Homo sapiens: one gene and its partners. The protein of the gene in region 1 interacts with the protein of each later gene in a pairwise test. Each region holds a gene or a part of one and is shown in the gene's direction. Other genes may lie near its edges. The genes, in order: DRD2, SERINC3, BCAP29, ABCA2, GNB5, SLC15A4 and SMIM7.

The links.
Region 2: the proteins of DRD2 (region 1) and SERINC3 interact in a two-hybrid assay, tested with the Homo sapiens proteins (one large-scale study listed by BioGRID and IntAct).
Region 3: the proteins of DRD2 (region 1) and BCAP29 interact in a two-hybrid assay, tested with the Homo sapiens proteins (one large-scale study listed by BioGRID and IntAct).
Region 4: the proteins of DRD2 (region 1) and ABCA2 interact in a two-hybrid assay, tested with the Homo sapiens proteins (one large-scale study listed by BioGRID and IntAct).
Region 5: the proteins of DRD2 (region 1) and GNB5 interact in a protein complementation assay, tested with the Homo sapiens proteins (one study listed by BioGRID).
Region 6: the proteins of DRD2 (region 1) and SLC15A4 interact in a two-hybrid assay, tested with the Homo sapiens proteins (one large-scale study listed by BioGRID and IntAct).
Region 7: the proteins of DRD2 (region 1) and SMIM7 interact in a two-hybrid assay, tested with the Homo sapiens proteins (one large-scale study listed by BioGRID and IntAct).

What each region holds. Positions count from the first base shown.
Region 1 is NC_000011.10:113,426,461-113,430,646, reverse strand, and holds part of DRD2 (D(2) dopamine receptor), read left to right. Parts: intron 1-4,186. UniProt on the Homo sapiens protein: Dopamine receptor whose activity is mediated by G proteins which inhibit adenylyl cyclase. Positively regulates postnatal regression of retinal hyaloid vessels via suppression of VEGFR2/KDR activity, downstream of OPN5.
Region 2 is NC_000020.11:44,511,605-44,515,790, reverse strand, and holds part of SERINC3 (serine incorporator 3), read left to right. Parts: intron 1-1,750; coding exon 1,751-1,912; intron 1,913-2,796; coding exon 2,797-2,990; intron 2,991-4,186.
Region 3 is NC_000007.14:107,593,256-107,597,441, forward strand, and holds part of BCAP29 (B-cell receptor-associated protein 29), read left to right. Parts: intron 1-699; coding exon 700-850; intron 851-2,042; exon of another isoform or gene 2,043-2,611; coding exon 2,612-2,747; intron 2,748-4,186. Other genes in the region: DUS4L-BCAP29 protein, read left to right, coding at 700-850, 2,612-2,747. UniProt on the Homo sapiens protein: May play a role in anterograde transport of membrane proteins from the endoplasmic reticulum to the Golgi. May be involved in CASP8-mediated apoptosis.
Region 4 is NC_000009.12:137,018,186-137,022,371, reverse strand, and holds part of ABCA2 (ATP-binding cassette sub-family A member 2), read left to right. Parts: coding exon 1-21; intron 22-370; coding exon 371-481; intron 482-761; coding exon 762-980; intron 981-1,310; coding exon 1,311-1,678; intron 1,679-1,876; coding exon 1,877-2,036; intron 2,037-3,065; coding exon 3,066-3,194; intron 3,195-3,301; coding exon 3,302-3,469; intron 3,470-3,556; coding exon 3,557-3,653; intron 3,654-4,020; coding exon 4,021-4,186. UniProt on the Homo sapiens protein: Probable lipid transporter that modulates cholesterol sequestration in the late endosome/lysosome by regulating the intracellular sphingolipid metabolism, in turn participates in cholesterol homeostasis.
Region 5 is NC_000015.10:52,184,750-52,188,935, reverse strand, and holds part of GNB5 (guanine nucleotide-binding protein subunit beta-5), read left to right. Parts: intron 1-4,186. UniProt on the Homo sapiens protein: Enhances GTPase-activating protein (GAP) activity of regulator of G protein signaling (RGS) proteins, such as RGS7 and RGS9, hence involved in the termination of the signaling initiated by the G protein coupled receptors (GPCRs) by accelerating the GTP hydrolysis on the G-alpha subunits, thereby promoting their inactivation.
Region 6 is NC_000012.12:128,813,762-128,817,947, reverse strand, and holds part of SLC15A4 (solute carrier family 15 member 4), read left to right. Parts: exon of another isoform or gene 1-2,570; intron 2,571-2,877; coding exon 2,878-3,173; intron 3,174-4,186. UniProt on the Homo sapiens protein: Proton-coupled amino-acid transporter that mediates the transmembrane transport of L-histidine and some di- and tripeptides from inside the lysosome to the cytosol, and plays a key role in innate immune response.
Region 7 is NC_000019.10:16,649,978-16,654,163, reverse strand, and holds part of SMIM7 (small integral membrane protein 7 isoform 2 precursor), read left to right. Parts: intron 1-38; coding exon 39-129; intron 130-1,202; coding exon of another isoform or gene 1,203-1,302; exon of another isoform or gene 1,303-1,808; intron 1,809-1,891; exon of another isoform or gene 1,892-2,269; intron 2,270-2,321; exon of another isoform or gene 2,322-4,186.

The sequences.
Region 1 (4,186 bases):
GGAGCCCAACAATCTGTGCAGCCCGGAGACAGAAGGACAAAAGGGAGGGATGGGCTGGAGCTGCAGCAGGGAAGCCTGGGGACCAGCAGGTTTTCTCAGGCCCCTTGAGAAAATACCAGCTTAGAAATGCTGGGAAGGCCCTGTATTGCTATCCACTCTACAATGCACTTCCCCCTGCCCCCACCATTTTAATGTCTCTGAAATCAGAATGCATTTTACAATGGATGACATCTTGGAGCTCTACTGGGGTTGGATGGCATTTTTTTCTTTCCTAGTGATATATAAAATAGTGGTGCATCTTCATTCGATTTTGTCTTAGAGTCTATGAAATGTGGTGATTAGTATGACAGTCATCGGCTATAGCAGCTGGGCTGGGAGAGCTGTATCTTCCAGGCCAGCTGCTACCTCATCTCAAGGGTCACTTGAGTTTGTCCTACAGCCAGGGCCCAGGGACAGGCTTTGTCTTTTCCTTCCTTTACTTCCTCCCAAGGAGTTGGTGGCTGCATCTTGAAATCCATCTCCCTTCATCTAGCCACCTATTTTTCAGGATGGGCCATAGGAGGCAGTGGGCCCAGGAGGACCTCAGACCCTAGTGAGCTGCATTTGAACAGCAACAGTCACTTCATCTTGCTGAGCCGTTGGCTTGTGGTCTGATTGCTTGTTTCATTTCATTCTTTTGCTTGGTTTGATTTTTAAAGTTGACATTCTCAAGGGCTTACCTGTGCCTGGCACATGGCCATGAGTCATCTTACTTAATACTCACAATTGTTGTTATCTCTATTTTGTGTATGGGAAAACTGGGCTCAGGAAAGCCAAATAATCTGGCTGAGGCCCCAAAGTTAGTAAATGGTAGAGTTGGGACTTGAACCCAGGTTTTTTAGTCCTCAACTCGAATGTTATACTAGCACCTCTCAGGCTAGAGTACCTTCTCTGTGGCAGTGGATTTGCTGATGTCTGAATTCCTGCTCAGCTTGATGTTTACATGGTGAGAGCCAGCTAGGCTGCCCCTGCTTGTGAGAGGTGAAAGCCCCAAGTAGATAAGGTGCTGAAGACACGATAGAAACCAGGACTGACACCAGGTGTTAAAAGATAGCCCTGTACTGGCCGGGTGCGGTGGCTCACGCCTGTAATCCCAGCACTCTGGGAGGCCGAGGCAGGCAGATAATGAGGTCAGGAGATCGAGACCATCCTGACTAACACGGTGAAACCCCGTCTCTACTAAAAATACAAAAAAATTAGCTGGACATGGTGGCGGGCACCTGTAGTCCTGGCTACTCGGGAGGCTGAGGCAGGAGAATGGCGTGAATCCAGGAGGCGGAGCTTGCAGTGAGCCGAGATAGCCCCACTGCACTCCAGCCCGGGTGACAGAGCAAGACTCCATCTCAATAACAAAAAAACCCCCAAACAAGCAAACAGACAAAAAGATAGCCCTGTACCAAGGTACTTATAGGGGTTACAGGTATTTAGGCATTTGCCATGTTTTCCCTTTTTTTTCCTATGGTGTAAATATACTACGTTTGTATTAGCAACAAAAAGCAACGAGAACAACCAATAATAAATAATAGATTAGAAAATCAAATGTGTGAGGCCTTTCTCAGAACTTGGGTACAGGGACTCTCCCTTACCCTGCAGAAGTAACCAGCACTCCAGAGAATGAATGCTCACCCTCAACCCCACCTGACCTGCAGTGCTCACATTTGCCATCTACATTGTACTCATAATTTTAAATCCTAGACTAGTGCCTGTAATCCCAGCACTTTGGGAGGCCAAGGCAGGAGTATCTCTTGAGGCCAGGAGTGTGAGACCAGCCTGGGCAACATAGTGAGACCCCCATCTCTACAAAACATTTTTAAAAATTAGCCAGGCATGGTGGCACATGCCTGTATTTCCAGCTACTCAGGAGGCTGAGGTGGTAGGATCACTTGAGGCCAGGAGTTGAGGCTGCAGTGAGCTATGATTGTGCCACTGCACTCCAGCCTGGGTGGCAAAGTGGGATTCTGTCTCTATTAAAAAAAAATTAAATCCCAGTTTACATCCTCCCTCCTCCAGGAAGTTCTCCACAAACGCCCCAGCCACACACATGTGCATATGCTCCTGAACATCAACTGTAGTGGACACGGTGGAGTGCCACCCAGATCCCCCTGCAGGACCACAGCCCTCATCCCCATCTACTGGGAGTGTTGGCAACTGACAGTTTTTGGCAATTGCCCACTGCTGAGGAGAGATGCCTCTTTCAAGGCCTCGCTGCTTTCCCTGGGACAGCCAGAAGCTGTGACATCTATGAGAGGGGATTAAAGGCCCTACCCTGTTGCCCTCATTTAGGCAACTGGCAGGGTGCCCTGTGGGGTCACCTGATGCCTTTCTTGTGACTTCTCCCTCTGGCCTGTCCTGCTTCCTCACTTCTTTGCACATCTTGATCCTGAGAGCATTCCCCTGTACATTTCCTGCAGGCTGATTTCCTCTTCAGAGTCTACTTCTAGGGACCTGTATTAGTCTGCTCTGGCTGCTATGACAAAATTCCACAGATTGGGTGGATTGAACAACAGAAATCTGTTTCCTCATAGTTCTGGAGGCTGGGACGTCCCAGATCAAGGTGTCAACAGGGCTGATTTTGCTTAAGGCCTCTCTCCATGGCTAGCAGATGGCCGCCTTCTTGCTGCATTCCCACTTGGTCTCTCCTCTGTGCGCGCATCCCTGATGTCTCTTTTTATGTCCAAAGCTCCTCTTATAAGGACTCCAGTCAGATTGGGTTAGGGCCCACCCTAAGCGTCTCATTTTAACATAATCAACTCTTTAAAGGCCCTGTATCCTAATACAGTCACATTCTGAGGTACTGGGGGTTAGGACTTCAACATATACATTTTGTGGGTTGGGGGAAGAGCATAGTGCAGACTGTAACAGGACCCAACATGCAGCACCTATGGCACCCTTGGGGTGCCTTACTTTTTCATCACTTGTTAATCTGGTAGCCTATGTTAGCAGGTGCCTTTCAAGTGGGAAGGGGTTTTCTTCCCAGTTGCACTAACAGAGCCTTTGATTCAGTTCAGCAAACATCTGTTGAATACGTACTGCCCACAAACCAGAGTCAAGAGTTGGGAAAGAACAAGATAGTATGGTTTTTATTTGTTCATTCCAAGAACAAGAGGAGGAATGAGCAAGACATGTTGTAACTCTTGTGATGTCTACACCCCAGTGAAAAAAAGAGACTCCTAAACAGGTGTCTCCTGCAGCACTGGGGTGTGTTTCAGTGCTGCAGGACCCTGAGGAGGGTGGGTGATGGCTCAGGCAGGAGGATATGGGTGGATTCTAAGACAGGAGGATTCTAGGCAAGACTCACTTTGAAGGATGCATAGGGACTGGAAAAGCAGAGGGAAGGGAAGTGAACAGAAGAGTTTTCCAAATCCCTTTCTTATTAAAGTAGGGATAATAATTAGACAAGATCAAGCATGTTCCAGGTAGTATGGCCATAGACAGGGATAATAATTAAAAGCCTCCGAGGGTTGTTTTGAGGATAAATGAGACAGTATATCCAAAAAACTTAGCAAACTATCAAACCCTTTACAAGTATATGATGCTATCATCAGCAGCAGGGAGTGGGGGGAGAAGAAGAGAGCGATGGTCAGGATGGGGGCAGTAAGTGTGCCTCACACGCCTCAGGCCCCTGACACTGCTTTGCACAGTGCTTTATGCCCAGCAGGTTCAATAAATGCCGATTGAGTAAATGAATGTCAGAAGCAGCCCCAGGCACCTGATCAATACATACATGCAGGCCTCCCGCTGTGGGCTCCAAATGGGAAGAGGGCTCAGTTGGTTTTGCAGAATACAGCATCAATATGACATATGCTTCATTACCTTAGAACAGGAAGATTTGCTGCGTGGTGGCATTCCATGTCACCCCACATGGAATTAGGCACTTTGCTTTTCCCCGAGGCTCCAGAGTGATGGTGGTTGGTAGGACATGATCCATATTCTTCTACTAAAGCTGGAAGAGTGGGTGTGTCAGACAGGGATGAGAGTGTGGAGATTGGGCAGACCCTCTTCCACCATCCTCTCTGACCCATTGCTGGAGGTGTGCCCTGTTCATTGATTGGACATGGCACCACATTCATCCCAAATGGCATCAATTGGTGGTTTTCAATTTGCAGTAGCAAAGTACCTGGAAGTCATGTGCTTTGTATGAAACACC
Region 2 (4,186 bases), on another chromosome or scaffold:
TAGTCCCAGCTACTTGGGAGGCTAAAGCACAAGAATTGCTTGAACTCAGGAGGTGGAGGTTGCCGTGAGCCGAGATTGTGCCACTGCACTCCAGCCTGGGCAACAGAGTGAGACTGTCTCAAAAAAAAAAAAATAAAAAAGCGTATAGTGGCATTTAGTACATTCACAATGTTTTGCTGCCATCACATCTGTCTAGTTCGTCGCCCTAAAGGGAAATCCTTTACCCATTAAACCATCACTCCCATTTCCCTTCCCTTCAACCCCTAATCTTCTGTCTCTAGATTCACTTATTCTGGATATTTTATTATATAAATGCACTAATACAGTATGTGACCTTTCATGTCTGGCTTTTTAAATAACTTTGCATGATGTTTTCAGGGTTCACCTGTGTTCTATCATGTATCTATCTATTATGTCTGAATAAGCCATTGTATAGATAGACCAAGTCTCACTCTGTTGCCCAGGCTGGAGTGCAGTGGCATGATTTCAGCTCAATGCAACCTCCACCTCCTGGGTTCAAGCAATTCTCCTGCCTCAGCCTCCTGAGTAGTTGGGGCCACAGGCATGAGCCACCACGCCCGGATAATTTTTGTATTTTTAGTAGAGATGGGATTTCATCATGTTGGCCAGGCTGGTCTTGAACTCCTGACCTCAGGTGACCTGCCCACCTCAGCCTCCCAAAGTGCTGGGATTACAGGTGTGAGCTGCCGCACCCAGCCAGATATACCATATTTTTACTTAGGCCATATTTACTTATCAATTAATGGACAGTGGGTTGTTTCCACATTTTGGTGATTGTAAATAGTGGTGCTGTGAATATTCGTGTACAAGCTTTTGTTTTAATAGCAGTTTCAAACAAAACAGCTATTGGGGTCGGGTATATACTTTCTGGGTCATATGGTCATTCTGTATTTAACTTTCTGAGGAACCTGGTTCCTCTTGAATTGAGCTAAATGGCCCTTGCTGTTATTATTTGTCAGAGGGTTTCCATGTAGTGTTGCTTTATTTTTTTATTTTATTTTATTTTTTTGAGATGGAGTCTCGCTCTGTAGCCCAGGCTGGAGTGCAGTGGCGCAATCTCAGCTCAGTGTGAGCTCCGCCTCCTGGGTTCATGCCATTCTCCTGCCTCAGCCTCCTGAGTAGCTGGGACTACAGGCGTCCGCCACCACACCCGGCTAATTTTTTCTGTATTTTTAGTAGAGACAGGGTTTCACCGTGTTAGCCAGGATGGTCTCGATCTCCTGACCTTGTGATCCACCCGCCTCGGCCTCCCAAAGTGCTGGGATTACAGGCGTGAGCCACCACGCCCGGCATGTTGCTTTATGTTGTAATATCAGCTTTGGTAACTTGGATTCGCAGTAAGCAGCAAGTGGAGTTAGGTTTATATTTTTCTCATATTTTAAAACAAATGATGCTCTCAGAATATAATTAACATTTATTGAACTGTTAATGCATTTTAGGTAGTGTTGAGTGCTCATTTAATACAGCAGAGTCTGAGGGAGGAAAATTCCATTATTGAGCTCATTTTACAAATGGTCAAATGGGGTTAGAGTACGTAACTTGCTGGGGTAAAAAGCGGCAGAAATAATATTTACTCCAGAGCCCGTACTTTTAACCACTTCCTCCCAGCCATGATTCTCTGAGTTAAAACTATAAAGCCTGATTTGCCTCGCTTTCTCTTCTGCGACATCTGTGTCATAAAGGAGTATACTGAAGGCGGTCTCAGGTGACCATGGTGTGCTCATTCCAGGTTCCATGCCTCTGCAGCGGTGCCTCATGTTTGCTGTGTAGTTGCTGTCCTAACAGTAAGAATTCCACGGTGACTCGCCTCATTTATGCTTTCATTCTCCTCCTGAGCACTGTCGTATCCTATATCATGCAGAGAAAAGAGATGGAAACTTACTTGAAGAAGGTAAGAAGTAACAGTGCCCTTAAGGTATTGGTTATTTTTATTTTTATATTCTGCAAAATTCTAGTTTTATTTCGTCGTTGTTAATCAAGTTGGTTGTAATTTGGAGATTTTTTACTTATATGGGGGTGTGGTCAAAACACAGAAATATGAGGACATTAGTCCTTTTCCAGAAATACAGAATGAACATCTGGGCTCCAGTCGAACAACTGAGAGAAAACATTAAAAGGGTGGCTCCAAAACATTTTCTTTCCTTATGTGTTAAAGGTCGAAGCATCTAAACTGGACTAGTTCTTCACCTTTGGAAGGACTCAGTCGTAGCTGGAAAATCTCACAGGAAAGTGGCACACAGCCTCTTCATCCTAAAAGGGCAAAGAAGAGAGACCATATTTTTTTGAAACTAAGACTCACTCTGTTGCCCAGGCTGGAGTGCAGTGACATGATCTTGGCTCACTGCAACCTCCGCCTCCCTGGTTCAAGCAATTCTCCTGCCTCAGCCTCCCGAGTAGCTGGGATTATAAGCATGCACCACCATGCCCGGGTAATTTTTTGTATTTTTAGTAGAGATAGGGTTTTCACCATGCTGGCCAGGGTGGTCTCGAACTCCTGACCTCGTGATCCACCCACCTCGGTCCCCCAAAATACTGGGATTACAGATGTGAGCCACCGTGCCCAGCCGAGAGAGCATTTTTATTTTTAAAATGCATGTTATTTATACTGTTTGGTAACAAGATTGTAAATGAATTGGAAGACAAAGAGAAAAATTCCATAGTCAGTCTTGCAGTTGTTGAAGTAGTTAATTTTCTAAATCCAGGCTTTCCTGCAGTGGGTTAGAGTCTCTGTCTAAATGTAGATATTCTCGTAACATTGAAATTGCTTTTTTCCAGATTCCTGGATTTTGTGAAGGGGGATTTAAAATCCATGAGGCTGATATAAATGCAGATAAAGATTGTGATGTGCTGGTTGGTTATAAAGCTGTGTATCGGATCAGCTTTGCCATGGCCATCTTTTTCTTTGTCTTTTCTCTGCTCATGTTCAAAGTAAAAACAAGTAAAGATCTCCGAGCGGCAGTACACAATGGGTATGTTAGATTTATGATTAACTGGTTACATTATGGTGTGGCTCTTCCTTCCCTTCAGCAGTTAATATAGCCATTCTGATGAAATCAATGGAATATGTAAATGAGTGGCTCAGATGCATTTCTGATCTATTATGCATGTGAAATTGTTTTAATGTCATTTTCAGTTAGATTGCTGTAACATGGAGGGGATAGGGGGTCTTGTCTTTTTATTTTCTTCTATTAAATTCCTTTGCTTCATGTTCTTAGATTTTTATTGAACACCTGTTAAATAGTTGAAGCACTATGCTAGATACTACGTACACACACACTTTTTTCTTTCTGTTGTTTAAAGATAAACATGTACCTGATAAATTTAAACAGTGTACAAAAGTCAGTGAATATATATGTGCTACTGATTTACATATTCTATTGCTTCTGACTCCTGACCACCTTTTACCTATGTTTCTAATTCTCTCCTTTTTTTTTTTTTTTTTTTGTTTTGTTTTTGGAGATGGAGTTTCACTCTTGTCACCCAGGCTGGAGTGTAATGGCGTGATCTCGGCTCACTGCAACCTCCCCCTCCCGGGTTCAAGTGATTCTCCTGCCTCAGCCTCCCTAGTAGCTGGCATTATAGGCACCTGCCACCATGCCTGGCTAATTTTTGTATTTTTAGTAGAGATGGGGTTTCACCGTGTTGGCCAGGCTGGTCTAGAACTCGTGACCTCAGGTGGTCCGCCCGCCTTTGCCTCCTGAAGTGCTGGGCTTACAGGCGTGAGCCACTGTGCCCAGCCGTATTTCTAATTCTCAAAGACTGAATGGCGTTTTATAAACTTGATGTGTATTATAATCCCCTTTTTACAGATGTAGTAACTGAACTGCAGAGAGGTTAATAAATTGTCTGAGACCTGTTAACCAGTTGGAGGTTGGAGCTAAGATTGAAACTTAGATCTGTCCAGCTCCAAAGCCTGGTTCTTTCCACTCTGCCATACAAGGCAGTCATTAAAGATCATGAACTGAAAATCAGGTGCCAGTGATGAGCTGTGTCATTGTGGGCAAGGTATCTGTGCCCTGTGTTGTAAATATTTGTGATTACTTTTCATCCAGACCTTAACAGTTAATGGCTGTGTGTGTACCTAACACTGTTATTTTAGAACTCCCAGAATGCTAGAAAAATGCCTACCTTTAAGTGCTAAAAGTAGGGAGACTCTAAATTTTCA
Region 3 (4,186 bases), on another chromosome or scaffold:
CATACAAGAATCCAGGAACTAAGAATGCACTCAATGTAGACCCTTATAAGCTGATATCTATTTTCCACTGGAAAGAAGTGGTTCCCCTGCATCTGAGACTTCCCAGAACTGAAAGCATCAAAGGAGCAGCTATCTGAACCTTTCCAGTAGCAGCTGCTATGCACTAGTCGGAGGAGTGTATGCCACCACAGATCAAATCCCATGTTAACAAACTTATGCCAGTGGAAATTTCAGTATAACCAAATATTTTGAAAATCTCAATCATTTAAAGTAATAATATGTAATAAAATGCTAGTGTAGTAAGAGAAATGGGATAGTCTCTTGGAATTGATTGTAATGGGATATGACATCTGTCATTGTCAATAGGCTGAATTTTAGTCATCTTAGAGACAGAAAATGTAAAGGATAATAGTTTGCAGTGTAGTTAGAGATGAGAAACAATAAAATGATGGTAAGTACTAGATGAATAATTTTAAAAATGCTATAGTAATTCAAAATTTGCTACTAGTGTCCATTTATAGAGCACCTACTTTGAGCATGAAAAGTTCCCGGGTACTGTAGACGGAATGACATAAAGGTCGCCTCTGCCTAAAGTCCATTATTTAAAAGTTTGGTCAGTTTTTCTAAAACTGCTTTCCATTTTTAACAAGCTTATATTCGTAAAAGCCAAAAGTACTGTTTTCTTTTGTTCTGTAATAGATGCTGTGAGAGAAGTAAGGAAATATTCCTCAGTTCATACCATTGAGAAGAGCTCCACCAGCAGACCTGATGCCTATGAACACACACAGATGAAACTTTTTAGGTCTCAAAGAAATCTTTACATTTCTGGATTTTCCCTATTTTTTTGGCTGTAAGTAAAAAATAATAATAGAAGCACAATTTAAAAACATGACTTATGCTTTCCTTTCTCATTTTGTCCACCTTTACTGTAGATTTTTTTTTTTTTTAAGAGAGACAACCTTTCGCTCTGTTGCCCAGGCTGCAGTGCAGTGGTGCCTTCATAGCTCACTGTAACTTCAAACTCCTGGGTTCAAGTGATCCTGCCTCTTCAACCTCTCATTTCTAGGACTACAGGCGGCACACCACCATGTAGGGCTAATTTTTAAATTTTTTGTAGAGATGGGGTCTCACTGTGTTGCCCAGACTGGTCTCAAACTCCTGGCCTCAAGTGATCCTCCCACCTCAGCCTCCCAAAGTACGGAGATTACAGTCACTGTACCCAGCCTACTGTAGTTTTGTTTGTTTGTTTGTTTGTTTGTTTTTTAAGATGGAGTCTCGCTTTGTCGCCCAGACTGGAGTGCAGTGGCGCGATCTCGGCTCACTGCAAGCTCCACCTCCTGGGTTCACACCATTCTCCTGCCTCAGCCTCCTGAGTAGCTGGGAGTACAGGCGCCTGCCACTGTGCCCTGCTAATTTTTTTGTATTTTCAGTAGAGACAGGGTTTCACTGGGTTAGCCAGGATGGTCTCGATCTCCTGACCTCATGATCCTCCCGCCTCGGCCTCCCAAAGTGCTGGGATTACAGATGTGAGCCAACGCGCCCGGCCTGTAGATTTTTTTATAACATCTTTGTAAAAGAATTCAGATGATATACCCAAATAACAAACAGTAGTTAACAGCTTGTAGGTTTGCCCAGTCCATAAGGCCCTGAATGATTAGGCTCCTGCCTCTCTTTGGAGCCTTGTCTCATACGTGTCTCTGAGATGTACAATACATTCCACCCTTACAGACCTTCACCATTTATTCATTCATTCCATCTTGCAACAGATATTGATTGAGTTCTGTGGTGTACCTAACTCTTTCCCATTTTAGGGTCTTTACACAAGCTCTTCCTTTTGCCAGAACACTCTTTTCTTTCCTCATTTCCTGGCTAACTCTTACTCATCCATTAGCCTCTTTCTCAAAGCCTTCTGTGGCCATCACTACCCACAAAGTAGGTAGGTCTTCTCTTACAGGTGCTCAAAGAATGTATATATACTTCATTTTCTAGTGTCATTCATGGTTGTAATTAAATACTGTTTTAACTTTTGCTTCCACAACTAGGAGCTAAACCCCTGAGGGCATGGACTTTGCTGTTTTCCGCTGTGTCTGCAGTGCCTGGCAGAGTGTCTTAACACTTAGCAGTTCCTGAGTAAAGGAATGTCTGCTGAATGAATAATTGAAGATAGTCATCACTATTTCTTCTAACAATGGCAGTTACACATAAACGGATGTGAATGAGCTGTTCTTCGGCTTGTTTGACCTTACACAATGTTCCTTAAATAGCAGAATTTGAACTGGGCCAAAAAAAATAATTCTCCTACTGGCCCTGTCACACTGTCTGAAATTTTCCTGTTTCTATTCCTCCAAGCTAAAGCCTTCTACAGGAAAACAAATAAGTACCACTGAACCTGTATTCTAAATGCTGGTCTTCTAACAAAGATTCCAAAGGAATGAGACACGGGCCTGTTTTTACTAAGAGACTTGAATTAAAAAAAGAATAATGGGTTCTGCCTAAACATTATCTGCCACCACCACACCTATATCTAATGGGGAGTAATTTGGCAATGACTGTTTTAAAATAAGTTTCTGGTGATTGGCCAGTAATACATTATTCTGGTTTTTTTTCTTAGAGTTTTGAGACGTCTGGTTACGCTTATTACTCAACTGGCAAAAGAACTGTCAAACAAAGGTGTACTTAAAACTCAAGCAGAAAATACTAACAAGGCTGCCAAAAAATTTATGGAAGAAAACGAAAAACTAAAAAGGGTATTTAATTTTCTTTGTAAAAATTAAATGTTGTTGGTGTTCCCGAGGAGTAATGTATTTGTTTTCAGCATCAAAAAGAGCATTTTTATATTTTATAAGCAGAAAATGACCATAATTAACAATATTTTATGTAATGATTATTTCAAGAATAGTTTTACTGTTCTTTAGAAATGCTTGTTCACACTAATATTTTTACTATTATTTAGATTTGCTTTTTCTCCATAGTGGATTTATACCATTGGACCTATTTTCTGTGATTTAAGGAGAAAATAGTATTCTGGGAATATGAATTTTAATTCCTTCATTACCGTTAAGTTTACTTTATAATCTAAAGCAAGTCTTTATAACTGTTTCTATTTCTTTTTCAGTTAAAGTATTTTTAAGCCTAGATTTTCGTTTTCTTTTAAATGATTGGTTTATAGAAAGCAGAGAAACGTCATTGATGCTAGATTGATAATTGCACATAATATTTGAAATCTTTAATGTTATTCCTTTATTTTCTATCTTTTGATCTCATTTCACAGTGGCAAAAATAAAAACACAGTCATTAAAGCTTTGATTGATAGTGTTAACTAAACTCAAAAGCACGCAGCCTTGTATTTATAGAACAACTGATCATGTACATATCTTAATTTAAAATTATACACATCATTTTGGAGTAATGATTTGTAACCATCAGAACACTGCTTTTTTTCCTCTTCAATTGTTTTTCTCTTATTCTTTAGCTCTAAGAAAATGGAAAGTGTTATTTTTTTCATACATACCATACTTAATACACTTAAATTAGTCTTGCCCTTTTAAAAAAAGCACCTTCCTCAAAATACTTTTGCAACTTTTCTCTTGGAATTGTTTTCAGAACCATTTACCCATGCAAGGAAACTTATGTCATGATTACCAATTCCTTGACCCTGCGTGATTTATTCTTTCTGTTTGTTTGTTTTCCTCTCCTTTGTTTCCATACTGTCCTGATTTGCTGCTTCCTGCATAGCTGTGACCCAATCAGAGGAGGCACAGATATGCTGGGCTAAAGCCAGTACACAGTGGGGAGAAAGTCTTTGAGCAGCACATAAAAGCAGCTGTCAGTGCCCAGAGTATAACTAATTGACCAATAAAGTGACCAACAAAGGCCATAAGTGAGAATATAAAAGATGACGTCTGTTTCAAGGTACTTCATGTAGGTTTTGAAAAATAAGCTAAGGAAAGATAAGCTTGTGAAAACACCCCCTTTGTTTTGTCCTTCCTTCCTTTCTTTCCTTTCCTCTCCTTCCCTCCCTTCCTCCCCAGACTGATCTCAAACTTTTGGCCTCAAGCAGTCTTCCCACCTTGGCCTCCAGAAGTGCTGGGATTATAGGCAAGAGTTACCGCGCCCAGCCATACCTCTTCATTCTCTATCAGAGACACATTATCCAGTGGAAACTGCATTACCCTGAGATCCGAGA
Region 4 (4,186 bases), on another chromosome or scaffold:
GCCCGTGTGGACCCGCCCGAGGTAAGGCAGGGACAGCTCCCAGCCCTGGCCACTCCCTTCTGCCCCAGCCACGCCCCCTGGTTGCTGAGCCATCCTCAGGATGCTCAGCCTGAGTCACGCCCAGACCGTCTGAACCTTGCCCCCACCATCTGAGCCACGCCCCCACTCTCTGAGCCATGCCCCCACCATCTGAGCCACGCCCCCACACCTACATCGGAGCCACGCCCCCACCATCTGAGCCACGCCCCCACTCTCTGAGCCACGCCCCCACCATCTAAGCCACGCCCCCACACGTCCATCGGAGCCACGCCCCCACCATCTGAGCCACGCCCCCCACACCCCATCTGAGCCATTCCCCCACACCTCCTAGGTCTACCACCTGCTCTTTGGTCCCTCATCTGCCCTGGATTCACAGTCTGGCCTCCACAAGGGTCAGGAGCCCTGGAGCCGCCTAGGGGGCAATCCCCTGTTCCGGATGGAGGTGAGGGCATCCATGTGTGGGATGGGCCTGGAGTGCTGCCTGCCTCTGGGGGTGCTTCTGCTCCGTGGGTGAGGAAAGGGCCCCTTTGGTGACTTGGAGCTCCTCCTGGGAGAGGGGGAGGGTCCCAGGGGTCTATGGCAGGCATGAGGGGTAGAGGCATGTCGTGGGACCCAGGCAGCCCCAGAGCCAGCCAGTGGGTGGGGCAGGGTGAGGCCTGAGGCCCTAGTGGTTGGGGACAAAGTCCTTGCCGTGGCTCCACGGACCCCTGTGCCCATCCCAGGAGCTGCTGCTGGCTCCTGCCCTCCTGGAGCAGCTCACCTGCACGCCGGGCTCGGGGGAGCTGGGCCGGATCCTCACTGTGCCTGAGAGTCAGAAGGGAGCCCTGCAGGGCTACCGGGATGCTGTCTGCAGTGGGCAGGCTGCTGCGCGTGCCAGGCGCTTCTCTGGGCTGTCTGCTGAGCTCCGGAACCAGCTGGACGTGGCCAAGGTCTCCCAGCAGGTGAGGCCCTGCCTGCCCACTGCCCGCTGCGCTGCTTGCTGCCTGAGTTGAAGGAGGGGCTGGGACCGCTTGGAGAGCTCAGGGCTCCTGGGCCCAGGCTGTGCGTGGGATGCTGCCTGTGGGTGGGTATCCAATGGCACCATGGCTGGTGCCCCACTCCTGCTCACCATCCCAGCTCCTGTCCTGGGCTCCCGTTACCCAGGCTGCAGACTCCCTCCCAGCACCCCTAGCTTGTGTCTCCCTGCTGCTGTCTCCCTGCTCCACTCCTGACCTATCACCCACCTGCAGTCCATCTCACCCCGCACTGCCCACGTGCCTGTTTCCCCTCAGCTGGGCCTGGATGCCCCCAACGGCTCGGACTCCTCGCCACAGGCGCCACCCCCACGGAGGCTGCAGGCGCTTCTGGGGGACCTGCTGGATGCCCAGAAGGTTCTGCAGGATGTGGATGTCCTGTCGGCCCTGGCCCTGCTACTGCCCCAGGGTGCCTGCACTGGCCGGACCCCCGGACCCCCAGCCAGTGGTGCGGGTGGGGCGGCCAATGGCACTGGGGCAGGGGCAGTCATGGGCCCCAACGCCACCGCTGAGGAGGGCGCACCCTCTGCTGCAGCACTGGCCACCCCGGACACGCTGCAGGGCCAGTGCTCAGCCTTCGTACAGCTCTGGGCCGGCCTGCAGCCCATCTTGTGTGGCAACAACCGGTAGGTGGGCGGCAGGGGAATGGGGGTGAGGAGGACAGCCAGGGGCAGGGCGTGAGCCCTGAATCTAGGCTCTGGCTCTGGAGGTCTCATTTGGCGCCCTGCCCTGTGCCCCGAAGTCCTGCCCCATCCCGATGCCCCTCCCACTCTCGCGGCCCTGCCCCCTAACGGCCTGGCCCGGCCCCCTGTCCCCTACCCCAGCACCATTGAACCCGAGGCGCTGCGGCGGGGCAACATGAGCTCCCTGGGCTTCACGAGCAAGGAGCAGCGGAACCTGGGCCTCCTCGTGCACCTCATGACCAGCAACCCCAAAATCCTGTACGCGCCTGCGGGCTCTGAGGTCGACCGCGTCATCCTCAAGGTGCACGGGTCTGGGACGCTCCATGTTTGACAGGCAGAGTGGGAGGGGGTCTCTGCAGGCCTGGGACCCCTGGGCAGAGGGTGTCGGCAGAATTGACACGGGAGGGGTACGGGGTGCAGCTTCGGATGGGACACAGGCTCTGCAGGTGGGGGACCAGGGGGTCGCTTTTCCTTTCGGGAGCTCCAGGGGCTGCTGTGGGAAGGCACTGGAGAGTCTGCTCTGGCAGGGTCCTCCGGCTGGGGGTGGCCGGTCCAGGGCAGTGCTGGTGGAGGAGGGGTGTGTCCAGAGACCTTCCAGAGTGTCTCGTGGGCGGGCAGCTGGGCAGTTTGGGTTCTGGGTGAGGGGTCCTGTCTGGAACAAGCAGAGGCCAGGGCTGGACATTGGCCTGGGAGGGGAGGGCCTGTGGACGAGGCCAATCCTGGGTGTAGAGGGGGTCCCTAGGATGAGGGTGGGACAGATGAGGGTGGAGCATTGGGTGCTTAAGGGACACATGGAGACAGGTCCAGCAAAGGAGCTGGTGGGCACAGCTGGGCAGTTGGGGGTCCGGAGGCCGTGCTGCCCTGGGAGTGGAGGGCAAAGCAGGTTTCACCTGAGCGCCGCAGAAAGGAGTGGAGAGCCCGGGCGTGGGACTCACGCTTGAAATCCCAGCACTTTGGGAAGCCATGGTGGGAGGATCGCTTGAGCTCAGGAGTTTGAGACAAGCCCGAGCAACATAGCGGAAGCCCGTCTCTACCAAAAATACAAAATTAGCCAGGCGTGGTGGTGGGCACCTGTAATCCCAGCTACTTGGAGGGCTGAGGCGGGAGGATCCCTTGAGCCTGGGAGGTGGAGGCTGCAGTGAGCTGGGACTGCACCACTGCACTCCAGCGTGGGTGACTGAGACCCTGTCTCAGGAAAAAAAAAAAAAAAAAGGTGGGGAGGGTTAGTTGTTGGCAATGGACCAGCCACTGGGGAGGTGAGTGGGGTGAGAGCCCCCAAGTCGGTGGGGGTCCGTCCAGAAACTCCATGCCCCTGCCTCACCCCCTGCAGGCCAACGAGACTTTTGCTTTTGTGGGCAACGTGACTCACTATGCCCAGGTCTGGCTCAACATCTCGGCGGAGATCCGCAGCTTCCTGGAGCAGGGCAGGCTGCAGCAACACCTGCGCTGGCTGCAGCAGGTGCCAAGGGTGCCCGCGAGGGAGGCGGCTGTGGGTGGTGTGGGGAGCCCCTCTCTGCCCGGCTCGGCAGGCGCAGGTCCCCCTCTGAGCCGCCCCTCCACCCCAAGTATGTAGCAGAGCTGCGGCTGCACCCCGAGGCACTGAACCTGTCACTGGATGAGCTGCCGCCGGCCCTGAGACAGGACAACTTCTCGCTGCCCAGTGGCATGGCCCTCCTGCAGCAGCTGGATACCATTGACAACGCGGCCTGCGGCTGGATCCAGTTCATGTCCAAGGTGAGCGGTGGGGCCTCCGAGCCAACCCACGACACCCCCTGCCTCGCACATGCCCACGGCGGGCTCCAGCGATGCCCCTCCCGCTAGGTGAGCGTGGACATCTTCAAGGGCTTCCCCGACGAGGAGAGCATTGTCAACTACACCCTCAACCAGGCCTACCAGGACAACGTCACTGTTTTTGCCAGTGAGCTGCCCTCCCCGCCCCGCCCCAGCCCCCCACAGACCTCTTCCTCCCCAGCCCAGCCCCACCCGTCCCCCTGTGCCCTCCCACTCCTTGGCCGCGCCCTGGCCTTCCCCCCTCACCCGCCACTTCCCCTCCCCACCCCTGCCCCTTCCAAACGGCCCCAACCCACAACCCGCCCCCTCCCTGCACCTCCCCACTTCTGCCCACCTTTCCCCTGGGGCCCCCACCCCAGCCCTGTCCCACCTTTCCCTGGACCCTCCTGTCCCCGCCCCCACACCTTGGCCCCGCCCCCGTGCCTTGCTTTCCCCCCCACCACGCCTTGGTCCCGCCCCTGCATCTTGGCCCCGCCCCAACCTCCCGGCCCCAGGTGTGATCTTCCAGACCCGGAAGGACGGCTCGCTCCCGCCTCACGTGCACTACAAGATCCGCCAGAACTCCAGCTTCACCGAGAAAACCAACGAGATCCGCCGCGCCTACTGGCGGCCTGGGCCCAATACTGGCGGCCGCTTCTACTTCCTCTACGGCTTCGTCTG
Region 5 (4,186 bases), on another chromosome or scaffold:
ACTACCAAAGCTGTATCTATGTGTTTGTGCCAGAAAAGTCTGGAAGAATAAACAACAAACTAAGGGCAGTGAAAATGCAGGGCATGTGATGGGGGATTCAAGTTTTACTTTTTCATCTTTGGTACTGGTTCTTTTTAAAATAAACACGTATTTCTGTGGTAATTTTTTAAGTCACATATTTAGGTAAAACAGATATCAAAGAAAGTTTGTGCTTGGCATAAAGTTATTAGGGGAAGGTTTGAGAAGTTCTATGAACTACTGCAGAGCAACTTCATGTCAAAATTTGTTAAATGGGGCATTTCTGTCTTTCTTGTCAAAATGCTCATCGAAACATTGGCTCTAGCTGTGAAAAATTCTCTCATCATAAAAAGGATATTGACAATAAGTACAACAAAGTACTAAAATTTAGCTGATACAAATACTAAGTGAAAAACATCAAGATACAGAAATGTAATCAGTATACATGAACAGTATGACCTCAGTGGTCTCAAATCTATTCTTGCTACACCAAAATGTAAAAAGAAGTTTCTCTGAGTGGTGGGATTATAGGTGATTATCTTCTTCCTTATATCTTTTTTTCCCCCAAACTTTCTACAATGCATATGTATAATATTTACAGTTTAAAAATGCTTTAAATTTAGTTTGTAGCTTGCCCATGTTTAACCAGTGAGGTCTAAAATGCTAGCTATGTGATACGACTTAAGGCCCATAGGACTCAAAAATTGGAGTCTCCGTTAAAAAATGGTGTTTTCCAGTAATATGCAATGACGTGAAGATGAAAATGCTATTATATAAAGTAGTATATGGCATATAATTCCAATTTGTTAAAAAGTACACACATATATACTTATAAAGATACTAGAGGAAAACATAAAATGCCAACAGGTCAGTTGTTGGTGTAGGGCATGTGGGCGATTTACTTTCCCCTTTTTGTGTCCTTCTGTTTCCACTTATTTATTTATTTATTTTTAATTTTTAATTTTCTTTGAGATGGAGTCTCACTCTGTCACCCAGGCTGGAGTGCAGTGGCATGATCTCAGCTTACTGCAACATCTGCTTCCCGGCTTCAAGTAATTCTCCTGCCTCAGCCTCCCGAGTAGCTGGGATTACAGGTGCGCACCACAACGCCAGGCTAATTTTTGTATTTTTAGTAGAGATGAGGTTTCCTTATGTTGGCCAGGCTGGTCTCAAATTCCTGGCCTCAAGTGATCCACCCGCCTTGGCCTCCCAAAGTGCTGGGATTACAGGCATGAGCCACCACACCTGGCCCTGTTTCCAGTTATTTATAATGAACATTATCAGCATCTTTTATAATTTGAAAAAATTCAAAATTTAGTTTGAGAAGAAAAACATTGCCTCTATCTAGATATGGAATATCGGCTATCTTTTCAACTTGTCTTTCTCTCCCGTGCCTCCCAGCCATCCTTCTATTCCTCCTCCACTTGGTGCCATAGGTTCCTCTCGCCTTCCATTCCCATAGCTGCTCCTCTGTCCGCAGCTCATTTCCTCTTCTCCAGAACATAGCAATCTCTTAACCTAGTTTGTTTTCCTGCCGTCCCTTCTCTCTCTCTCTCTGACCTACTTCTGGAAGCACAAATGCTGGAATAATCCACGTGGATGACACTGCTCCCTTGCTTAACAGCCTGTGGCTCACCGTCCTAATGCTATTACTGGGAGTGTTCAGCCCAACCTTGTTACTGGCTGCCTTTACAGGGCTGGGGAGTGGGATGCAACAGTTACCAAGCCCCACCATGGGCCAGGCTCTGGAGGGCAGGCCCTTTTTTGTTAACTCACCTTTTGTGACAAAACCATGCAGCTTGACCATGCTAGCTTGGAAATAGGGTTCCAAAGTGTGTATTCATGCTACTTACAGACTCAGCTCTGCCGCTGACCTTGAACTTGTTTAATCCCCCTGCTTTTCCTCAGCTGTAACACAGATGTCCTGCCTCCCTCCCAGGGAGAGGCGAGGGCTGGGCACTCTGTGGCAGTTGGTAGCTGGTTTCCTTGCGAGCTGTTGTCCCTAAGGGATGCCCTGTACACCTTTGTTGCCCAGAGGTCTCGAACTGTGCTGACTGCCCCTTTGCTGTAAGAGCTCAGCCCAACTCATGAGCCCCCATTATCTCTCCAGCCCCAGGGTGGGCTCCACATGGCAGACGTTCCTCATCAGAAATGTCCCCAACTGTCACCTCCCCCATAAATGCATCCCTCTCAGATTTGACTCTGTTGAAATGTTCAGACCAGCGCCCCCAATTATCTTTATGTTCAGGGGTTCATTTCTTTGAATCTTGACGGGGCTCACTCTAGAACACCTACCAAATTGACAGGGCCACACTGGCTGCTCCCTTCCCCCTTAACCGCTTTGTCCTCATCTCCAGCAATGGCAACATAACCCCTCGGTCTCCCAAAGAAATCTAGGCCACAGCACCCACATCTCCCTCTCCTCAACTCCACATGCCAAATCCAGCTCCTTCTCTCTTTCCTAAGCATGGTCCAAGTCCATCCCACTACATTGCTTTGTGGGCCTAAAAGGAAGAGGCTGTAGCACAAACCAAGACTTAAGGAGTTTACTTGAGCCAAAGTGAGGACAGATTCCTGGAAGGCCCAGACCCAAGTAACCTTGGACATTATCTCTGTTTGGCCTTTGTTACAAGCAGTTTTTTTAAAAAGGCAAAAAAGAGGGACCGGGAGTGGGCTGATACAAAGTTGTTAGGAATTCTCATTAGTTTACAGAAATAACATTGATTAGCGACTGGTTATACATTGTTACACTACAGGGTGTGGGTTATAGTGTCCAGTGTGGCATTATTAGGTTATTTTTTAGCTACTTGTGCCAATGGCAAGCAGTTTCAAGAGATGAGGCCAGGTGTGGTGGCTCATGTCTGTAATCCCAGCACTTCGGGAGGCCGAGGTGGGTGGATAACTTGAGGTCAGGAGTTTGAGACCAGCCTGGCCAACATGGTGAAACCCTGCCTCTACTAAAAATACAAAAATTAGCCTGGCATGGTGTCTTATGCCTGTAATCCCAACTACTTGGGAGGCTGAGGCAGGAAAATCGCTTAAACCCAGGAGAACGAGGTTGCAGTGAGCCAAGATTGTGCCACTGCACTCCAGCCTGGGAGACAGAGAGATACTGTCCCAAATAATAATAATAATAATAATAATAATAATAATAATAATAATAAAAAGATGAATACACAGCTCAAAGTGGGGACTAGAACGTTATTGCTGTCTCATTTTCATGATTCTCTGGGCCTGATAATTTAAAAGGGCTTGCATTCCTCAGATAAAAGTTACTTTCTCACCTTTAGTCCATGACTTCCTCGCGTCTTGTCTGAACCGTTGCCATAGGCTCCTCTTATGCTTTCTTTGGCATCCCCAGCCTCACCCTGCCCCTACCCATGTCCCTCCTTCCCAAGGCAGCCACTGTTCCCGCTATTGCTGCCACTCAGGGCAGCATGACCTCGCTGGCACACTCCCTGTATTACCGACCTTGAGCTAAGTGCTTTACGCACTGACTCTTATCATTCTCTTGACAACCCCAGAAGGGTAGATTTTAAGATCTCCACTTGACAGATTAGCAAAACCAAGCTTCAGAGAGGTCAGCTAACTAGCCTCAGTGGTGGGCCGGGACCAGGCAGCCAGAGCCTGTCCCTGTAACCACTAGATGCTTGTGCTGCCTCCCTGCAGCGGCCTGGGCCTGTCTGTTGACTTCCTTGTGAACAGGCAGGGACCCTGGGTCTTTGGCTGTCAAATGTTTAATAAGTGAGTGCTTGCCTTGCACGGAACCCACACCACACTTACTCAGGCCCCTGGCTTTGGTTGGGGTCAGGCTCCATCATTTGCTGACCCTTATCTTTAAAAGTTCACCCTGAGGGGAGGAATGTTTTTAAAAGTTTTAAGTTATAGCATCCATTACAAAAACGTTTTCCATTGTGAAACCCCACAGAATTGATATTGTGCTGCAAGGATCAATCCTGCCTGACGCAGGTCTGCCAGCTGCCAAAAAACTGGTTAAACGTGTTAAGTTCAGAAAACCTATTGTCTGATGCTTTCTCACTGATTAAATGAGTTGTATTGACCCAGCATGTTGTAATAGTTGAAAGGTTATAAATTAACTGCATATACTCTATCCCACATGTAGACGTCTGAATAGCTACCACGGTACAAGCAAGAAGAGATTTTAGAA
Region 6 (4,186 bases), on another chromosome or scaffold:
GTGAAAACCTTGTTTACCCTTGGTAGGGCACGTAGCTGCAGCTCACACAGTGATGTCATGCAAACGATGGGCAGGAGGTTGTGGCCTGCTCGCCAGGGGCTGGGAAGCATGTGATGTCCCTTCACAGCAGCCAGGTTCCCTTGGTACAGAAATGCCTGCTGTGTGGTTATTTAGGGCTTAGTAATTTTGGCTTATAAAGTAATTTTGATGGATTACTCTTGGAGTTGGAATAAATTGACCACCACAATTACACAGGAAATGAGGATGAATGGCATTTTAAGGTTAGGATTTTCCCAGAGTAATCAAATGCTGATATTTTCATGCTTCATCTGAAGAGGACATAAGTCTGAGACTGTGGGAAGATATGTGCAGTGTCACTGTGGGTAACGGGAAGGCCCGAGTGAGACCGTGGGAAGGTGTGTGCAGTGTCACTGTGGGTAATGGGAAGGTCCGAGTACATTTCAGTTAGGAAATCATTTGTGCCTCTATTAAGTTTATATACTATGTTTACTGGCCTCTTTTATGCTTGTCAAAAAATTACTTTTTGTTTGTTATTTTTTCGCACTTCTAGTTTTGTTTTCTCAGTAACCATTTCTCTGCTCACATTTTTCATTTTTCTTCCTGGTCCATGTCTAGTATAGCATGAGAATTGGTGTCCACTGTTGAGCAATATTTAAATGCATTGTGTCCTAGTGAAGAAGTGTCTTAGATGTCTGTGAAGTTCTCACCTCAAACTCTTTATTCAGTAGAGATGTCTGCATTTGGTCTAGGACCTCTGTTCAGTATTGTAATAGATAAGAGAAAAGTTTAAACTCTTGAGAATAAGTGATTTTCTTTTAAATTTAGATTTTTCGTTTGAAGTGGTGTTACTATATATAATTAATTACCTGCCACCATAGTGGCCATGCTTAATCATTTGGACTTCAAACAAATCTCTTTTTGAGGAGCACACAATTTTTTTTCTTTTGCTCTATTTCCTTTAGAGAGGAACACACAATTTTAACTATAAATTTTACTCCTCTGATTTAATCTTTAAAAAATAGAGTTTAAAATACCATATCAAATATATGACTGCTAAAAAGATGCATGTGCTTATTACATACCATATCTTTTTTTTTCTTTTGAGACAGGGCCTCTGTCGCTTAGGCAGGAGTGCAGTGGTGCCATCACAGCTCACTGCCACCTCCTCCCCAGTTCAAGGGATCCTCCCACCTCAGTCTCGCAGGTAGCTGGGACTGTAGGCGCACACCACCGCACCTGGCTGATGTTTGTAATTTTTTGTAGAGATGGGGGTCTGTCTGTGTTCCCAGGCTGCTCTCAAACTCCTAGACCCAAGCGGTCTGCCTGCCCTGGCTTCCCAAAGTGCTGGGATTCCAGACCTGAGCCACCATGCCCAACCGTAATTGGTTGTTTTGGCCCCATTGAGAATGTGTTATTCAGTAGAGCAGATTGTTCTATGGATCCAGAAACTAGATCTATTATTAGAATAAGAATTTTCTAACTCTTTCATAACCTGTGACTTAAGAATGAGACAGTAGAAGTTTTTAAGACAGCAAGAGAGTCTTTTTATGAGATCCAGTATCAGCCTCTCATAAGTTTGTTAAAAATAAATTTATGAAATGAAACTCACTAGAAATGTCTCTGTCTAGTACAGGGTTCATTTGCACAGTATCTTATTTAGACGTAAAAATCCAGGTGGGCAGAGAAGGCTTCTGGTGTGTCTGCCCCCAAATGACCTGTTCCCACCGCTTGGGCTCCATTGAAGTAGCCTCGTGAACTCCATAAGCCTAGATGTTGCGTTATTACCTCAGTGCTTTTGTTTGAGTCCAGGAAGTCAGTGATTTTTGAGCCTTTTGGAAATCCCACCCTTATCAGAATTTCTCCGATTCCATTGATAGCCTGTCTAATCTAAAAATAGCATGTGGTTTTATCTTTAGTCTATAATTTCCTCTTTGCTTCAAGTTTACTGAGATCTCTGATTCTCAGGAGACCAGATACAATTGGTGTGGGTGGTGACTTGGCCTCACTGAACAAATGTCTCTCTTTGGGGCCTAAGCATATTTGTGGGGTGCCTCATGGTACTTGCATGTAGCTCAGTAAGGCATGGAGCTTTATAACATTGGTTCTAAAACTTACCTGTGAGTAGAAGTCACCTGGGAAGTTGCTTGAAATGCAGATTCCTGGGCCTGGGCCCCAGAGACCGTGATTCAGTAGGTCTGGAGCGTGGGTCCTGTGACTGTGTTTGTTTTTTGTTTGTTTGTTTGTTTGAGATGGAGTTTCACTCTTGTCAACCAGGTACAGTGGCACAGTCTCGGTTCACTGCAACCTCCATGTCCTGGATTCAAGCGATTCTCCTGCCTCAGCCTCCCAAGTAGCTGGGATTACAGGTGCCCACCACCATGCCTGGCTAATTTTTGTATTTTTAGTAGAGACGGTGTTTCACCATGTTGGCCAGGCTGGTCTCGAACTCCATACCTCAAGTGATCCACACGCCTCAGCCTCCCAAAGTGCTAGGATTATAGGCGTGAGCCACCATGCCCAGCGGACTCTGTTTTTAAAGAGCATTCCAGGTAATTCCAAGGCAAGTGGTTCAGGTACTTAGAAAATTCTACAGCAGAATATACTTGGAAAAACTCTCTAGCATTTGTTGGAATTTAGTGTAATTAAGTGAAACCTACCTAGCAACTGTAGTAATTAAAAGCGTGGGGTGTGCTTTTTGTTGAGATCCGTGAATGTTTCTGTAAACACAATTTTGATTGTGTTGCGCTTCTTAAAGGTTGTGATGACAACGGTAATTTTAACCACTTGACCGTATATGGTTTTCATCCTTGAAGACTGTCATATATTTTCAAGTGTCTTTCCTCCCTGTTATTTTAGGTTAAAGATCGAGGTCCGGAAGCCACTAGGAGATTTTTTAATTGGTTTTATTGGAGCATTAACCTGGGAGCGATCCTGTCGTTAGGTGGCATTGCCTATATTCAGCAGAACGTCAGCTTTGTCACTGGTTATGCGATCCCCACTGTCTGCGTCGGCCTTGCTTTTGTGGTCTTCCTCTGTGGCCAGAGCGTTTTCATCACCAAGCCTCCTGATGGCAGTGCCTTCACCGACATGTTCAAGATACTGACGTATTCCTGCTGTTCCCAGAAGCGAAGTGGAGAGCGCCAGAGTAATGGGTAAGCACTTAGTTCTCATCTTGGGCTGTTTGAAAGGACTTTATCGATCTCTTTATTAACATCCTAGCTTCGGTTTGTTGTGTGCTTATTGTGTGCTGGGCCTGGGCTGAGTGGTTTACATGTCTTCTCTCCTTTAACACTGCATTTCCCCAAGGAGGCGGGTGCGGTCTTATTATCCCATCTTAAAGACAGGCCAGTGGCCTGATTCCAGAGCTCATGCTTTAACCCCACGTTGCACTTTCTCTCACTGCTAGTGTAGACGGAAGCTCCTTTGGTGCCAGATTATAAAGGTAGAAATTTGTGGAGGACATCGAGGAGACAGAAGACATGCTTTATACATGTTTCTTTTTATTTTAAAAAGCTTTGAAATACATTTGAATGAAAAACTAAGCAGTTGCTTATGCTGTCAGTACCTGTCTCTGCTCTTTAAAAAGTAAGCCACTGCCTCTTACCTAAAGGTCAGCATGGGCTCCATCATACAGCGGTCAGGTCCATCATACGGCGGTCAGGTCCATCATACAGCGGTCAGGTCCATCATACGGCGGTCAGGTCCATCATACGGCGGTCAGGTCCATCATACGGCGGTCAGGTCTGTAACTCTTGACAGGAAGGTGCAGTAGCAGAATGGCGAGATGCACTGAGGGTAACCAGATGATCTCATGGGACTTACCCAGTGTTAGCACCAAAGTCCCATGAACTGAGGTGTTAAAACAGAAAGGCCTGTGTCCTCAGAACCCCTCCAAGTCACTGGCCAACTATGACTCATGTTTGGTGATGTTGGATGCCAGTTAATAAAGTCCAGAACTTAAGCCCAAGAAGAGAGCTCAGAAGTGTTTGTGTTACTCTTTATTGAGGAATAATTTACAGATAGTAAAATTTACCCCTTATATCTGTACAGTTTTGTGAATTATGACAAACTTACTCAGGTTGTGTAACCACCAGTGCAGTCAAGGCATAGATTATTTCCATCCTTCCAGAGAAGTCTCTGGGACCTTTTGTAGTCAGTCCCCTCA
Region 7 (4,186 bases), on another chromosome or scaffold:
GTTAGCTGTGCCATAAAAGTGCTTTCTGATTCTTCCAGGTGACAACATCCGGGAATTCTTGCTGAGCCTCAGATACTTTCGAATCTTCATCGCCCTGTGGAACATCTTCATGATGTTCTGCATGATTGTGTGAGTCCAGCCTGCCCTTTCCTTTCACTGTCGTCTCTTAGTCTCCTTCTCCAGGGTGACCCACCTGATGGTCATTCTCTGTCTTTTCAGTCATCACTCTTGTATCCTGGTTTCTGTTTTCTTTATTTTTTGTTTTGTTTGAGATGGAATCTTGCTCTGTCGCCTAAACTGGAGTGCAGTGGTGCGATCTGGGCTCACTGCAACCTCGGCCTCTTAGGTCTAAGCGATTCTCCTGCCTCAGCCTCCCGAGTAACTGGGACTACAGGTGCGTGCCACCACACACGGCTGATTTTTTGTATTTTTAGTAGAGACGGGGTTCCATCGTGTTATCCAGGATGGTCTTGATCTCCTGACCTTGTGATTCGTCCACCTTGGGCTCCCAAAGTGCTGGGATTACAGGAGTGAGCCACTGTGCACGGCCCTGTTTTTTTTGTTTGTTTGTTTTTGTTTTTGAGATCGAGTCTTGCTCTGTTGCCCAGGCTGGAGTGCAGTGGCGTGATCTCGGCTCACTGCAACCTCTGCCTCCCTGCTTCAAGCGATTCTCCTGCCTCAGCCTCCCGAGTAGCTGGGATTACAGGTGCCCACCACCACACCTGGCTAATTTTTGTATTTTTACAAGAGACAGGGTTTCATCATGTTGGTCAGGCTGGTCTTGAACTCCTGACCTCATGTGATCCACCTGCCTCGGCCTCCCAAAGTGCTGAGATTACAGATGTGAGCTACCACACCCGGCCCTGCTTTCTGTTTTCAAAATAAGTAAGTGAGGGAACCAGTATCTGAAGGGGTTAAACTCTGTCCCTGTGTCCCCACCAAACCGGGCTGGAACTTTTATTGGAACATGGAGTTCTCCAGCCCCCGGCTATGCCCGGCACCTCTGCAGGGGCTGCCAGGAGATGCCGTCCCTGAGCCCATGGCCCTGTCACGTCTCACCAGTTCTTCTGCATCTGCCGAGGTGGAAAATATGGTTTAAATGTCCAGCACACTGCCAGATCCTGCTCCACCTGGGCTGGAAGCCAGTAGAAATGTATTCAGACTTTATTGTTTTAAATTCTGGCTTTTCATTTTCTCATTAGGCTGAGAAAACTCAAGCAGATTGCCTTTCCATCTAGCACTGGGGCCATAACTCTGATACTACTGTTAACGAATTGTGAGATTTGCTGTAAATGGATTTAGGAAAAGACACGACGGGAGAATCTGGTGTTCTTGGCCTCTGTGGGTCCATCCCTGTATGCTTCCCCCAGAAAGAGAGAGGACAAAAAGTTGTCTGTCCTGAGTGATTGAGACTCCGAATGTGGGGTTGCTGTCCAGTCTGCGTGCCACCCCAGTGGCTGTTTGCGAAGATGCTTCCAGGACATAGGAGATCTGGGGAGGATGGCATTTCACCCTCATCACAAGGACCGTGATGTATTCCCAGGAAGACTGTTGCCAAGGTATCCTACCTGGCAGAGAGGATCTGAGAGCATGTATGAGACTTGCCTAGGAACAAAGAAGGCTTGTGAGGAGATCAAGGAACTTACATGAAATTGTAGGAACGGCCAGGGGCAGTGGCTCAGGCCTGTAATCCCAGTACTTTGGGAGGCCAAGGTGGGAGAATTGCTTGAGCCCAGGAGTTCAAGACCAGCCTGGGCAGCATGGTGAAACCCTGTCTTTACCAAAAATAAAAAAATTAGCCGAGTGTAGTGGCGCCTGCCTATAGTTCCAGCTCCTCGGGAGGCTGAGGTGGGAGAATCACTTGAGCCCTGGAGGCAGAGGTTGCAGTGAGCTGAGATCCTGCCACTGCACTCCAGCCTGGGCAACAGAAGAAGACCCTGTCTCCAAACAAATAATAATAAATCAAGACCTAAAGGACAAGAAGACGTTTGCCATTTGCAGAGCTGGAGAAAAGCATGGTGGCACAGGAAGTGGCATGTGCAAAGGTCCTGGGGCAGGGAAGAAGTCAGCATTCTTCCCTCATTCTCGTCTTTGCAAAGGTCCTGGGACAGGGAAGAAATCAGCATGCTTCCCTCATTCTCGTCTTTGCAAAGGTCCTGGGGAAGGGAAGAAGTCAGCATGCTTCCCTCATTCTCGTCTTTGCAAAGGTCCTGGGGCAGGGAAGAAGTCACTATGCTTCTATGCTTCTCTCATTCTCGTCTTTGCAAAGGTCCTGGGGCAGGGAAGAAGTCAGCATGCTTCTCATTCTCATCTTTGCAAAGGTCCTGGGGCAGGGAAGAAGTCAGCATGCTTCTCATTCTCATCTTTGCAAAGGTCCTGGGGCAGGGAAGAAGTCAGCATGCTTCTCTCATTCTCGTCTTTGCAAAGGTCCTGGGGCAGGGAAGAAGTCAGCATGGTTCTCATTCTCATCTTTGCAAAGGTCCTGGGGCAGGGAAGAAGTCAGTGTGCTTCTCTCATTCTCGTCTTTCCTGTGCACCTGCTTCATCATCCTCTCCTGTTTGACCAGCATCTTCACTCCCTCATCTGCTAGTCTGTGACCAGAACAGCAGCCTCGGGCATCCTCCCAGCTCAACTTTCCAAGACCTGCATAGTCAGTAGCCCAGGGTCCTGATTTTGTTTCCTGGGGCAGAGTCTGATTGACCCACCTTGGTGTCACTCTGGTCCATTTGGGGTGGGGGTTCTTGATTCTGCCATAACCACTTAGGTCAAGGGTCATCAGACCACAGGCCAAATCTCCCCACTGCCTGTTTTTGTGAATGAACTTCGCAAAAGTTCATGTGTGTGGCTGCTTCTGTGTCACAGCGGTGGAGTTGAGTTGTGTGACAGAGATGACATGGCTTGCAGAGCCAGAACTGTTAGTAAACAGTCACCCATTACAGAGAAAATGTGCCAACCTCTGACCCAGGCCAACTCTTTCACTGGGGGCCATGGGTGAGAGAAGATTCTCTCAAGAAAGGGCCCTCTCAGGGAGGTAGTGACTGGCTTTCCCAGGATATTTAAAAACTGGAAATCACCTAAGTGTCCAAGAACAGGGGAAGGATCAGGTAACTTGAAGGATGCCCATGTGACTGGCTGTCACAATACCATCACTGATGATGTGCCAGAAGGTTCTGTCTGCATGGGGAAATGAAACGTTCTGAAAGTGAAGAAGGCCGGAGGGTACTATGTCTGTGCAGCCTAACTTCAGCTGTGTAATGTGCATGCAGTAACCATGGATAAACCTTAAATGAGTGCCTTAAGTATGGGAGTGAAACACTGTTTAGCCAGGGAGTTGGAAGGATCCACTCCAGATGGGGTAGAGAGGTGACCCTGTGGCAGTTGCTGAGGAAATTGGCAGAGCCTGGGCATGGTTCAATATTCCGTGTGCCTATTTCTTCTTTTTTTTTTTTTTTTTGAGGTGGAGTCTTGCTCTGTCACCCAGACTGGAGTGCAGTGGCACAGTCTCAGCTCACTGCATCCTGCATCTCCCAGGTTCAAGTGATTCTCCTGCCTCAGCCTCCCAAGGAGCTGAGACTACAGGCACGCACCACCACACTTGGCTAATTTTTCTATTTTTGGTAGAGATGAGATTTCATCCTGTTGACCAGGCTGGTCTCGAACTCCTGACCTCAAATGATTCACCTGCCTCGGCCTCCCAAAGTGCTGGGATTATAGGCGTGAGCCACCGTGCCCAATCTCCCTGTGCCCACTCTTGTGTTGTTTGAGCTTTGGAAAGTTTAAGAAGTTATGAAAAGTCTGAAATAGGGGAGAAACGTCCCTGAGTATTTAGGGATCAGTAGCACTGTCATCTATAACTTACATTGAAACACATCAAAAATACGGATAAATGGTTAGATAGATGGATAGGTATGTGGTACAGCAAAGTGTTAATTGCAGAATGTAGGTGGTGGCAGTGTGTTTCAACACAACTCTTCTGTGTGTTGAAATTTTCATAAAATAACAAGAGGAAAAGTTAGGGAGAAAATGAACCATGGAGAGGTTTTACAAGTAAAAGGCGGAAGTCTGTCTTCACAATCCGGTATTTTATAGAATATTCACAGGATTATGCAGCCGCTATCTCTATCCAATTTCAGAACATTTTCATCAACACAGAAAGAAACCGCGTCCCCATTGGCAGTCACGCCCC